Linked DNA regions of Homo sapiens: all the other regions are linked to region 2. The links come from fine-mapping of genetic effects on gene expression. A gene starts in region 2. Each other region holds a variant in brackets. All regions are shown on one strand. Distances are between the middles of the regions.

The links. PIP is the estimated chance that this variant, and not a neighbour inherited with it, causes the effect.
Region 1: its variant is fine-mapped to the expression of POLR2G in fibroblasts (GTEx, PIP above 0.99).
Region 3: its variant is fine-mapped to the expression of POLR2G in whole blood (INTERVAL, PIP above 0.99).
Region 4: its variant is fine-mapped to the expression of POLR2G in thyroid (GTEx, PIP above 0.99).

Annotation. Positions count from the first base shown.
Region 1 is chr11:63,124,127-63,126,743 of GRCh38, forward strand. All of the region lies in intron 2 of SLC22A24 (solute carrier family 22 member 24), which reads right to left. Among named protein-coding and RNA genes, the nearest start is that of SLC22A24, 19 kb to the right of the region's middle. The variant G/A (reference allele first, on the strand shown) is at 1,494.
Region 2 is chr11:62,759,991-62,762,607 of GRCh38, forward strand. It overlaps POLR2G (RNA polymerase II subunit G), which reads left to right and starts at 1,590. Exons shown (of 8, transcript NM_002696.3): 1 at 1,590-1,670; 2 at 1,805-1,914. The coding sequence starts at 1,659. RefSeq lists an enhancer at 1,599-1,798.
Region 3 is chr11:62,939,771-62,942,387 of GRCh38, forward strand. All of the region lies in intron 4 of LOC105369333 (a long non-coding RNA gene), which reads left to right. Among named protein-coding and RNA genes, the nearest start is that of CHRM1, 20 kb to the left of the region's middle. The variant GA/G (reference allele first, on the strand shown) is at 1,228.
Region 4 is chr11:63,081,701-63,084,317 of GRCh38, forward strand. SLC22A24 (solute carrier family 22 member 24) reads right to left here. Exons shown (of 10, transcript NM_001136506.2): 7 at 1,543-1,757. Among named protein-coding and RNA genes, the nearest start is that of SLC22A24, 61 kb to the right of the region's middle. The variant G/A (reference allele first, on the strand shown) is at 1,603.

The sequences.
Region 1 (2,617 bases), 360 kb after region 2:
ACATGATGGGAACCAGCTTGATGTCTTGAAGACTAGCAGAAAATGGAAGAAGGTAATAGATGAGGTGAGAAAGGGATACAGCAGCCAGATCTCAGAGCTGGCAAGATTTATGATAAGAAAACTTAGATTTTATTCTAAGTGCAGTGGAATACTGTTGAGTGTCATCTAGCTCCTGGGGGGAAGAAAGACAGAAAAAACTTTCAAGCTTGAGAAGGCACAGATAATGAGATAAATTCGATGTATGGATTAACTGTGTGATATTAACAGGAGTCAAACACTAGCAGACGGTTCTTTTTAAAGAAGTGAGCAACATATTCTTAAAGGTTTTGTAACAGAACAAGGTAGTTATTTGTTAGAAATGCAGAAGTTCCTTCATTTGATAGGAGGTTGAACTTGATAACTTCTAGAGTTCCTTTACTATCTTCCAAAATATCCCTTCACTATTTTAGATGTTAGGGTCATCTTACAAATCTGAGCCATGGTTATTGAAATAAATTATTTTACAACTGGTCTCCTGGCTGCCACTGTTAGCTCTTACTAACAGTCTTTTCAACTCAACTGTCACAAACCCTATCATTGTCATATCCCTTATTAAACATTTCAAATTAAAATGTGGCACATATACACCATGGAATACTATGCAGCCATAAAAAATGATGAGTTCATGTCCTTTGTAGGGACATGAATGAAAATGGAAATCATCATTCTCAGTAAACTATTGCAAGGACAAAAAACCAAACAACGCATGTTCTCACTCATAGGTGGGAATTGAACAATGAGAACACATGGACACAGGAAGGGGAACATCACACTCTGGGGACTGTTGCGGGGTGGGGGGAGTGGGGAGGGATAGCATTAGGAGATATACCTAATGCTAAATGACGAGTTAATGGGTGCAGCACACCAGCATGGCACATGTATACATATGTAACTAACCTGCACATTGTGCACATGTACCCTAAAACTTAAAGTATAATAATACAAAAATAAAAAAAAACAAAAAAACATTTCATTGAAGTTTATTTTTCATTAAAAAATTTTTTTATTATACTTTAAGTTCTGAGGTACCTGTGCAGAATGTGCAGTTTTGTTACATAGGTGTACAAGTGCCATGGTGGTTTGCTGCACCCATTAACTTGTCATCTACATTAGGTATTTCTCCTAATGCTACTCCTCCCCTAGCCCTGCACTCCACGACAGGCCCTGGTATGTGATGTTCCCCTCCCTGTGTCCATGTGTTCTCATTGTTCAACTCCCACTTCTGAGTGAGAACATGCAGTGTTTAGTTTTCTGTTCCTGTGTTAGTTTGCTGAGAATGATGGTTTCTAGCTTCATCCATGTCTCTGCAAAGGACATGAACTCATCCTTTTTTATGGCTGCATAGTATTCCATGGTGTATATGTGCTACATTTTCTTAATCCAGTCTGTCATTGGTGGACATTTGGGTTGGTTCCAAGTATTTGCTATTGTGAATAGTGCCGCGGTAAACATAC[G/A]TGTGGATGTGTCTTTATAGTAGCATGATTTATAATCCTTTGGGTATATACCCAGTAGTAGGATTCTGGGTGAAATAATATTTCTGGTTCTAGATCCTTGAGGAATTGCCACACTGTCTTCCACAATGGCTGAACTAATTTACACTCCCACCAACAGTGTAAAAGTGTTCTTATTTCTCCACATCCTCTCCAGCATCTGTTGTTTCCTGACTTTTTAAATGATTGCCATTCTAACTGGTGTGAGATGGTATCTCATTGTGGTTTTGATTTGCATTTCTCTGATGACTGGTGATGATGAGCATTTTTTCCTATGTTGGTTGGCTGCATAAATGTCTTCTTTTGAGAAGTGTCTGTTCATATCCTTCGCCCACTTTTTGATGGGGTCGTTTGTTTTTTTTCTTGTAAATTTGTTTAAGTTCTTTTTAGATTCTGGATATTAGCCCTTTGTCAGATGGGTAGATTGCAAAAATTTTCTCCCATTCTGTATGTTTCCTGTTCACTCTAATGGTAGTTTCTTTTGCTGTGCAGAAGCTCTTTAGTTTAATTAGATCCCATTTGTCTATTTTGGCTTTTGTTGCCATTGCTTTGGTGTTGTAGATGTGAAGTCTTTGCCCATGCCTATGACCTGAATGGTATTGACTAGGTTTTCTTCTAGGATTTTTATGGTTTTAGGTCTTACTTTTAAGTCTTTAATCCATCTTGAATTAATTTTTGTATAAGGTGTAAGGAAGAGGTCCAGTTTCAATTTTCTGCATATGGCTAGCCTATTTTCCCAATACCATTCATTAAATAGGGAATCCTTTCCCCATTGCTTGTTTTTGTCAGGTTTGTCAAAGATCAGATAGTTGTAGATGTGTGGTGTTATTTCTGAGGCCCCTGTTCTGTTCCATTGGTCTATATATCTGTTTTGGAACCAGTACCATGCTGTTTTGATTACTGTAGCCTTGTAGCATAATTTGAAGTCAGGTAGCGTGTTGCCTCCAGCTTTATTCTTTTTGCTAAGGATTTTCTTAGCTATGTGGGGTCTTTTTTGGTTCCATATGAAGTTTAAAGCAGTTTTTTCCAATTCTGTGAAGAAAGTCAGTGGTAGCTTGATGGGGATAGCATTGAATGTATAAATTACT
Region 2 (2,617 bases):
CCGTCTCTATTAAAAAAAAAAAAAGAGAGAGGGAGTCTTGCTCTGCATCCCAGGCTGAAGTGCAGTGGAGCGATCTCGGCTCTTTGCAATCTCAGCTTCCCGGGTTCAAGCAATTGTCCTGCCCCAGCCTCCCCAGTAGCCGAGTAGCCGGGATTACAGGCATGAGCCACCAGTGCCCGGCGCATGTAACATTTTTTAACAGAGGATGAAATAGTCATGGATTTCCTACACTTCAGCCTGGGCGACACAGCAAGACTCCGTCTCAAAAAAAAAAAAAAAAAAAAAAAGAGTTAATCTATAATCTGAGAACAGAAGTTGTAAACTATATGTGACTCGCAGTCATATCTCTCTCGAGGCTTAAAGTGTTTTTTGGGCTTCCAATAGCTCTTAAATTTTTTTTTTTTTTTGAGACTCCGTCTTGCTTTGTCGCCAGGCTGGAGTGCAGTGGCGCGATCTCAACTCACTGCACCCTCCGCCTCCCGGGTTCAAGCGATTCTCCTGCCTCAGCCTCCTGAGTAGCTGGGACTACAGACGCCTGCCACCACGCCCGGCCAATTTTTTGTATTTTTAGTAGAGACGGGGTTTCGCCATGTTAGCCAGGATGGTCTCAATCTCCTGACCTCATGATCTGCCCGCCTCGGCCTCTCAAAGTGCTGGTATTACAGGCGTAAACCACAGCGCCCGGCCTAAATTTCATTATTTTCTGTAGCTTCTTGGCCTTTTGGCTAAGGCTCGTAAACATTTTTTTTTTATTTCTACACCAATTTCTGTAGATTATTATGAGAATTAAGGGAGAGAATTATATCAAGCGCTTAGCACAGTGTCTGGCATCTAGGAAGAAAGTAGTAAGTGATAGCATTTATTTATTTATTTATTTTATTTATTGAGATGGAGTTTCGCTCTTGTTGCCCAGGCATCTAGGAAGAAAGCAGTAAGTGGTAGCATTTATCAATCTATCTATCTATCTATCTATCTATCTATTATCTATCTATCTATCTATCTATCTATCTATCTATCTATCTATCTATCTATCTGTTGAGATGGAGTTTCGCTCTTGTTGCCCAGGCTGGAGTTCAGTGGCAAGATCTCGGGCCGCCTCCCAGGTTCAAGCAATTCAGATAGTTGCCGACCGGGCGCGGTGGCTCACTCCTGTAATCCCAACACTTTGGGAGGCCGAGGTGGGTGGATCACCTGAGGTTGGGAGTTTGAGACCAGCCTGACCAACATGGAGAAACCCCATCTCTACTAAAAATACAAAATTAGTCAGGTGTGGTGGCACATGCCTTTAATCCCAGCTACTCGGGAGGATGAGGCAGGAGAATCGCTTGAACCCGGGAGGCGGAGGTTGCAGTGAGCCGAGATCGCGCCACTGCACTCCAGCCTGGGCAACAGAGGGAGACTCCGCCTCAAAAAAAAAAGTTGTCGTTTGATGGCTGGGGGGCGGGGGTGAGGGGCGGGGCTTAGTGGTTCTCGCCCACGACGGCGAGGCCCAATCAGACCCGCGGAGCTGGTGGAGTTCCGCCCTCGCGGAGGAGGTGGTGTTCCGCCCTCCTAGTCGCAGCAAGCGCGGAACTGGGGTTGCGGCGTCTAAGTGTTTCCGGTGGATTCCCAGGGACTGTCGGAGGTGTGGACTCTGCCTGCCTACCTGGTCTGGGAAGATGTTCTACCATGTGAGCAGGGCTCAGGGTGGCGGCAAGGGCTGGGTGGAAAGGAAGAGCAAGGCCAGGCGCCGGCGCGAGACTCCCCTTGTCGTCCAATAACCTGCCAGCGCCTGGCCTGGTCGCCATCCCACTTTTCTCCGCAGATCTCCCTAGAGCACGAAATCCTGCTGCACCCGCGCTACTTCGGCCCCAACTTGCTCAACACGGTGAAGCAGAAGCTCTTCACCGAGGTGGAGGGGACCTGCACAGGGAAGTGAGTGTCGAGCTCACCGCACCGCCAGATCGTTCGATGCGCACACGGGGCGCTATACCTGCAACCCCTCCCCAACTCCTACTCGTCCTGCCACCCACTCTGGGGACCCCTCTCCTCTCTCAGGCAGCCAGTTGCTTCCTGCTTTGGGTTCCCAGGGCGCCCTCTGCAATGCTGGACAATAAGACTTCCTTCTCTCAGCTGAGATGGGTCATTCATTGACTCCTCAAACATTTTAAAAACCCTTGGTGTGTGCCAGGACCCGTGTTGGGCTCAGAACAAGGTAGAATGGGAACAAGATAGAATGAGGACAGCCCCTGTGGAGCTCACAGTGTAATCATTGTTCCTGTGTCTGCTCTCCCTCTGTCATTCTGCTGGTTTTCTCTTATCCCCTGTGCCCAGGGACCACACACCATGGGCCTCTATATATCTTCTGAATGAATGACCAGAAAAAGCAGATCGAGAGTTTGGGGGAGGAAGGAAGTAGCCTGGGATTTGACCATCTCTGGGCTTTGCACAGAGGGGCCTCTCTGATATTAATGAGCTGGGACCCAGCTCAGGGCAGTGGAGTACTTGGGCCTCCAGCATCAGAAAAACCTGCAGGAACATGCAGATTCCTGAGCCTCCTTATTCCCTACAGAATCAAGACTGTCTGGGGCAGACCTGAGAATCTGCATTTTAAGAAGATGATTCTCAGGCATCCCGA
Region 3 (2,617 bases), 180 kb after region 2:
ATATTTTAATTTGCCTAAGTGGTATAGGCAATAGATCTTATTCTATTTTTCATTCCATTCAGCACTTTGTTTTAAAGAGATTTTATGGTGTTTACCTGCTGCTGCATACTATGCCATGGTGTGCCGGTCTCCACATTTTACCTAAACACTCATTCCCCCGGCTATGGGGATCTAGATTGTTGCCAACACCCATGACCTCAAACAATACTGCAGTGAATGTCCTTGTACACGTCTCCATAAGGGCCTTTGTGAGAAGTTCTCTGAGATACAGGCCCAAGAAGGGAATTACTGGTGTGTGTGTGTGTGTGTGTGTGTGTGTGTGTGTGTGTTCGTGGGTGTGAATGCTGCCAATTGCTTTCCAGAATGGTGGTACCAATTTCACTCCCACCAGCAGTGCATTTGAGACGTGAGGATATAGGGGTCCTGTATTCTAACATGGCCTGTAACACCTGCCATTACCTGGCTTTCTAATGCTGCCAGTTTAATGGCTGTAAAGTGCTATCTCATTTTTCTTTTTCTTTTTCTTTTTTTTTTTGAGATGGAGTCTTGCTTTGTCACCAGGCTGGAGTGCAGTCGTGCGATCTCGGTTCACTGCAACCTCTGCCTCCCGGGTTCAGGCGATTCTCCTGCCTCAGCCTCCTGTGTAGCTGGGACTACAGGCATGTGCCACCATGCCCAGCTAATTTTTGTATTTTTAGTAGAGATGCGGTTTCACTATGTTGGCCAGGATGGTCTCAATCTCTTGACCTCGTGATTCGCCCGCCTCAGCCTCCTAAAGTGCCGGGATTACAGGCGTGAGCCACCGCACCCAGCCACTATCTCATTTTTCACGTGGTGATTAATCTTCTGGATTTCTTTCTCTGTAAAATGTCTATTCATTTTCTTTGCCCATGTGTCTACTACTAGTGTTCCTTTCTTTTTCTTGTCGAAGGAGTCTTGTCAGTGTTAAAGGCGCAGAGGCTCATACCTGTAATCTCAGCACTTCAGGAGGCCAAGACGGGTGGATCGTTTGAGCTCACGAGTTTGAGACCAGCCTGGGCAGCATGGCAAAACCCTGTCTCTACAAAAAATACAAAAATTAGCTGGGCGTGGTGGTAAGCGCCTATAGTCCCAGCTACTCAGGAGGCAGAGGTGGGAGGATGGCTTGAGCCCGGGTGGTGGAAGTTGCCGTGAGCCGAGATTGCACCACTACACTCCACCCTGGGCAATAGAGCCAGACCTTGTCTC[GA/G]AAAAAAAAAAAAAAAAAAAAAAGAGTTGCAAATCTCTCCTCTCAATCTGTCATCTATCTGTTAAATTTGTCCATTGTGTCCTTCAGTAAGCAGAAATCCTTTTTGATATAATCAAATTTACATATTTACATGTCTATCTCCAAGCTCTCTTCTCAATTCTGTTTCTTCTTGCATCAAGAAAAGCTGCAAACAAATTTAACAGGGTGTCCTTTGTTAATTCCCTAATGAGATATATCTTTTGGTGCTATTCTGAGTGGTGTCTTACTTTTCAAAACAATATTTTCTAGATTATTGATTCTAAGCTATTGCTATTGATATTTTGGTAATTTGATTTTGTATCTAGCATCCTTGCAGAACTCTCTTATTAGTTTTAATTGTTTGTTGATTTTGTTCATTTATCTAGGTAGATGAACATATTCCAAGTAATGAGATTTTTAGAACATATTCTAAGTAATGAGATTTTTAACTTTTCTTTTTTAATTTTTAATTTTCTTATATCTTTTTCTTTCCTACTAGAGTGGTATTGGTCAGGCCCCCGAATACTGTGTTAAATAGTTGATTCTGATGCTGAAGAGAATGCATATACATTTTCTCATTATATATAGTGTTTGGTTTTGTGTTCAGATGCTCTGCTTACCTCTCTGGGTTTGCACTTTTCCTTAGATGATTGGCCTAGATTTTCCTTACTATCTTCTTTCTTTTTTTTTTTTTCTGAGACAAAGTTTCACTCTGTTGCTCCAGCTGGAGTACAGTGGCATGATCTTGGTTCACTGCAGCCTCAACCTTCTGGGGTCAAGTGATCCTTCGCTCCTCAACTTCCTGAGTAGCTGGGACTACAGCCACATGCCATCACACCTAGCTAATTTCTGTATTTTTTGTAGAGATGGGTTTTCGCCATGTTGGTCTTGAACTCCTGGGCTCAAGCAGTTTGCCCACCTCTGCCTCCCAAAGGCATTACAGGTGTGACCTGCCACACCCGGCCCCATTTTCCTTACTATCTTTCTAGCTCTTTGGTGCTTTTTTTTTTTTTTTTTTTTTTTTTTTTTGAGATGGAGTCTTGCTCTGTCACCCAGGCTGGAGTATAGTGGTGCAATCTCGGCTCATTGCAACCTCCACTTCTCGGGTTGAAGCGATTCTCCTGCCTTGAGTAGCTGGGATTACAGGCGCATGCCACCACACCCAGCTAATTTTTGTATTTTTAGTAGAGACGGGGTTTCACCATGTTGGCCAGGCTGGTCTCGAGCTCCTGACCTTGTGATCTGCCCACCTCGGCCTCCCAAAGTGCTGGGATTACAGGCATGAGCCACCACGCCCGGCTGCTTTTTGGTGCTTTTAAGGTTATCTTTTCCTTACTATCTTTCTAGCTCCTTGGTGCTTTTAAGGTTATT
Region 4 (2,617 bases), 320 kb after region 2:
TGAAGAAACTTTTCAACCCCCAAATAATTGTAAAAAGATTCTAATGGAGGAATTTGCAAGTGTGAAATATGTGGTAGACAAACTGCAACATGCCAGAGATTGGGGAATGGTTGCGAGGCTGAGAAATATAGACTGTAAAATGGTAGGGCTTAAACATTGAATAAAGGATCTCAATCTCAATCTTCAACTCTTTCTGCACATTTGAGTATTGCCAATTAAGGTGGGGGTAGGGACCAACAGGAAATATTTGTTTTATTTATTCTGTGTAATATTTTCTGTGTACTTCCAGTGGGGGCACAGAACTATATTTGTTCTATTAGAACAATATTCATTTTAATTTTTTCTATGTAATATTTTCTGTGCACCTCCAGTGGGGCATAGAACTATATATAGATAATAACTGAGGAGTTTGTGAGCCATGTCTTGAGCAGTTTAGAGCTAAGAATGTGGGAACAATTTTAGATATGGGACAGATATTCTACCATATAGTAAGAAAAGGACTGGGTTTATTTGGGAGTGGACAGTGTGGAGAGACATAAGCTCTGAATAATTCAGGATTGTAAAACCTAACATTATAAAACCTAACTCCTATTTGGAAATAAATAATATCACACTGGGAACCATTGACACTGAAAATTCAAAAAGGTACTTTTTCATCAATAAAAATATCAAAATAGGATTTTAAAACAGTGGAGAAGGCTCTCCTATAAGGCAGAAAACTTACACCAGCAGGAGGCATGGAGCCCACCAGTCTGGGAATCCTGCAAAATATGTTCCTGCTCTGGGAGATGAGTGGAATATAGTGACCACTAATGTTCCCATAATCATTACAGAAGGTCATTCTATTAATTTAACTTAGGAAAGTGGATTTTAAGAGAGGCTGGGTCAGCTTCTTAATCTGTTCCTTGTTTAGGGGTAGATTATAAAACAGATAAAGAGATATTAAGATGAGACTTTTTCTTGTTCCAACTGTACACTTCATTTATGGTTGAAGACAAGGAATTTTTATTTCAGCAAAGTCAAGAAGCCTTTTCTAAAAAAGTGTTGCATTTATATGAGATAATAGGGAACTCAAAAGTGAATATACAGGGAAGAGGATATGGACAAGTTAGAGAGACCTCAAAAATTAGAAAGTGTCCTAGACAGAGGCAGTGAGGGCATTGTGTGCCCACTTTGGCATACAGTTGCAAGGCCTAGCCCCTCCACAATAGCTATAAAAGGGTGATTAGCCAAAAAGCATGTGCTTAGTTACTTTTCTAAAGAAACCATTAGGTGTAATTGGAGCCCATGTCCAGATTCATCTTGGCTGTGATGAAGACAACCGTGTGTCTGAACCATCACGGCTGACATTGATTGAGTAAGAGCCCAAGTGCTGAAAACAACATATTGTCAGAATCAGTTCCAAACCCTCATATTAACTTCAGGGAATCTTTTGGCTGTCAAGGGCAATGCTGTTCTTTTGGCACCAGGCATAAAAGACCAATGTAATCCCTGGAGAATGGGGGTAACTACTTTCTTTCCTGAAACTCCTGTCTCTCTCACCTTGGGGCAAAAAGGTGTTGACCAGAATGAAAAGTCCCACCGGGAACGTGAACAATATCT[G/A]GCTTATTCGACGACCCATATGATTCAGTGTCAAAAGGGAAACACATCTGGCTGTGAATGTGACAGCTCCACAGAGAATCTGGAACAGGGAGACATTGCTCCCTAAGTGCTGCAAGTTGAGTATCAGGCCATAAAAGGGTACAGTGATTGCGAATCTGAAGTGAATAAAAAGGACAAAGACATATTCAATAAGATTTAAAGCCTAGGAAACATTTTCTGAGATTTTGAAGGTAAGTCCTACAAATGATTATAATATTGACCCAATTGGCAAATGGTGTTTTTCCTTTTAAAAAAGGGATCATTCTGTTTTATAGACTATTTCCTTTTCAGACAATGGTCTTAAAATAACATAAAATAATTGTGGAACATGATGTTAAAATGGGCTCTTCATTGTCATAATTTTTACTGGGTCCTGAAGAAAAGAGATAGCAAACATACATATTATCAATGAAAGTTAAAAACCTACCCATGTAGAAAAAGTAATGTGAAATCTGAATTCATCAGTCAACTGGATGATATAAATGATTGGACATGGGTAGGGTTAGATGATGGAAATTAGGGGAATAGTTTCTTTGCAGCAGTTCAGCATTGTGTGAGTCAAACTTCTCTGCTCCCGTTCAGAGACCTTCTTTACCTTAGTCTTAGTAATCCCTGGAGAATGGGGGTAATACTTACTTGTATAATCTGGCCCACAGATTATACAAGTGGAGAGGAATCATAACACATTTACATAGAGAAAAGGTCAACAATATCTTTTTACCCTTCTTACCATATCAACCACCAAGGTCAGCTTGAACTACAGAAACAGAGAATCTCTAACTCTGAATGAATATCTAACCTTCTTTACCTTACCTTAGTGAGGCTGCAAGGGCACTGTAGGCAAGAGCTTTCCATGTGTTTCCTGGACTTGAGTGCAGTGGCCTGACATTTCTAAGCAGTCTAAGAGCTACAAGCAATGGGTTATTAAATCATCAGAATTGAGATAAAGGGGCTGGCAGGTAAATATACTTCCAGT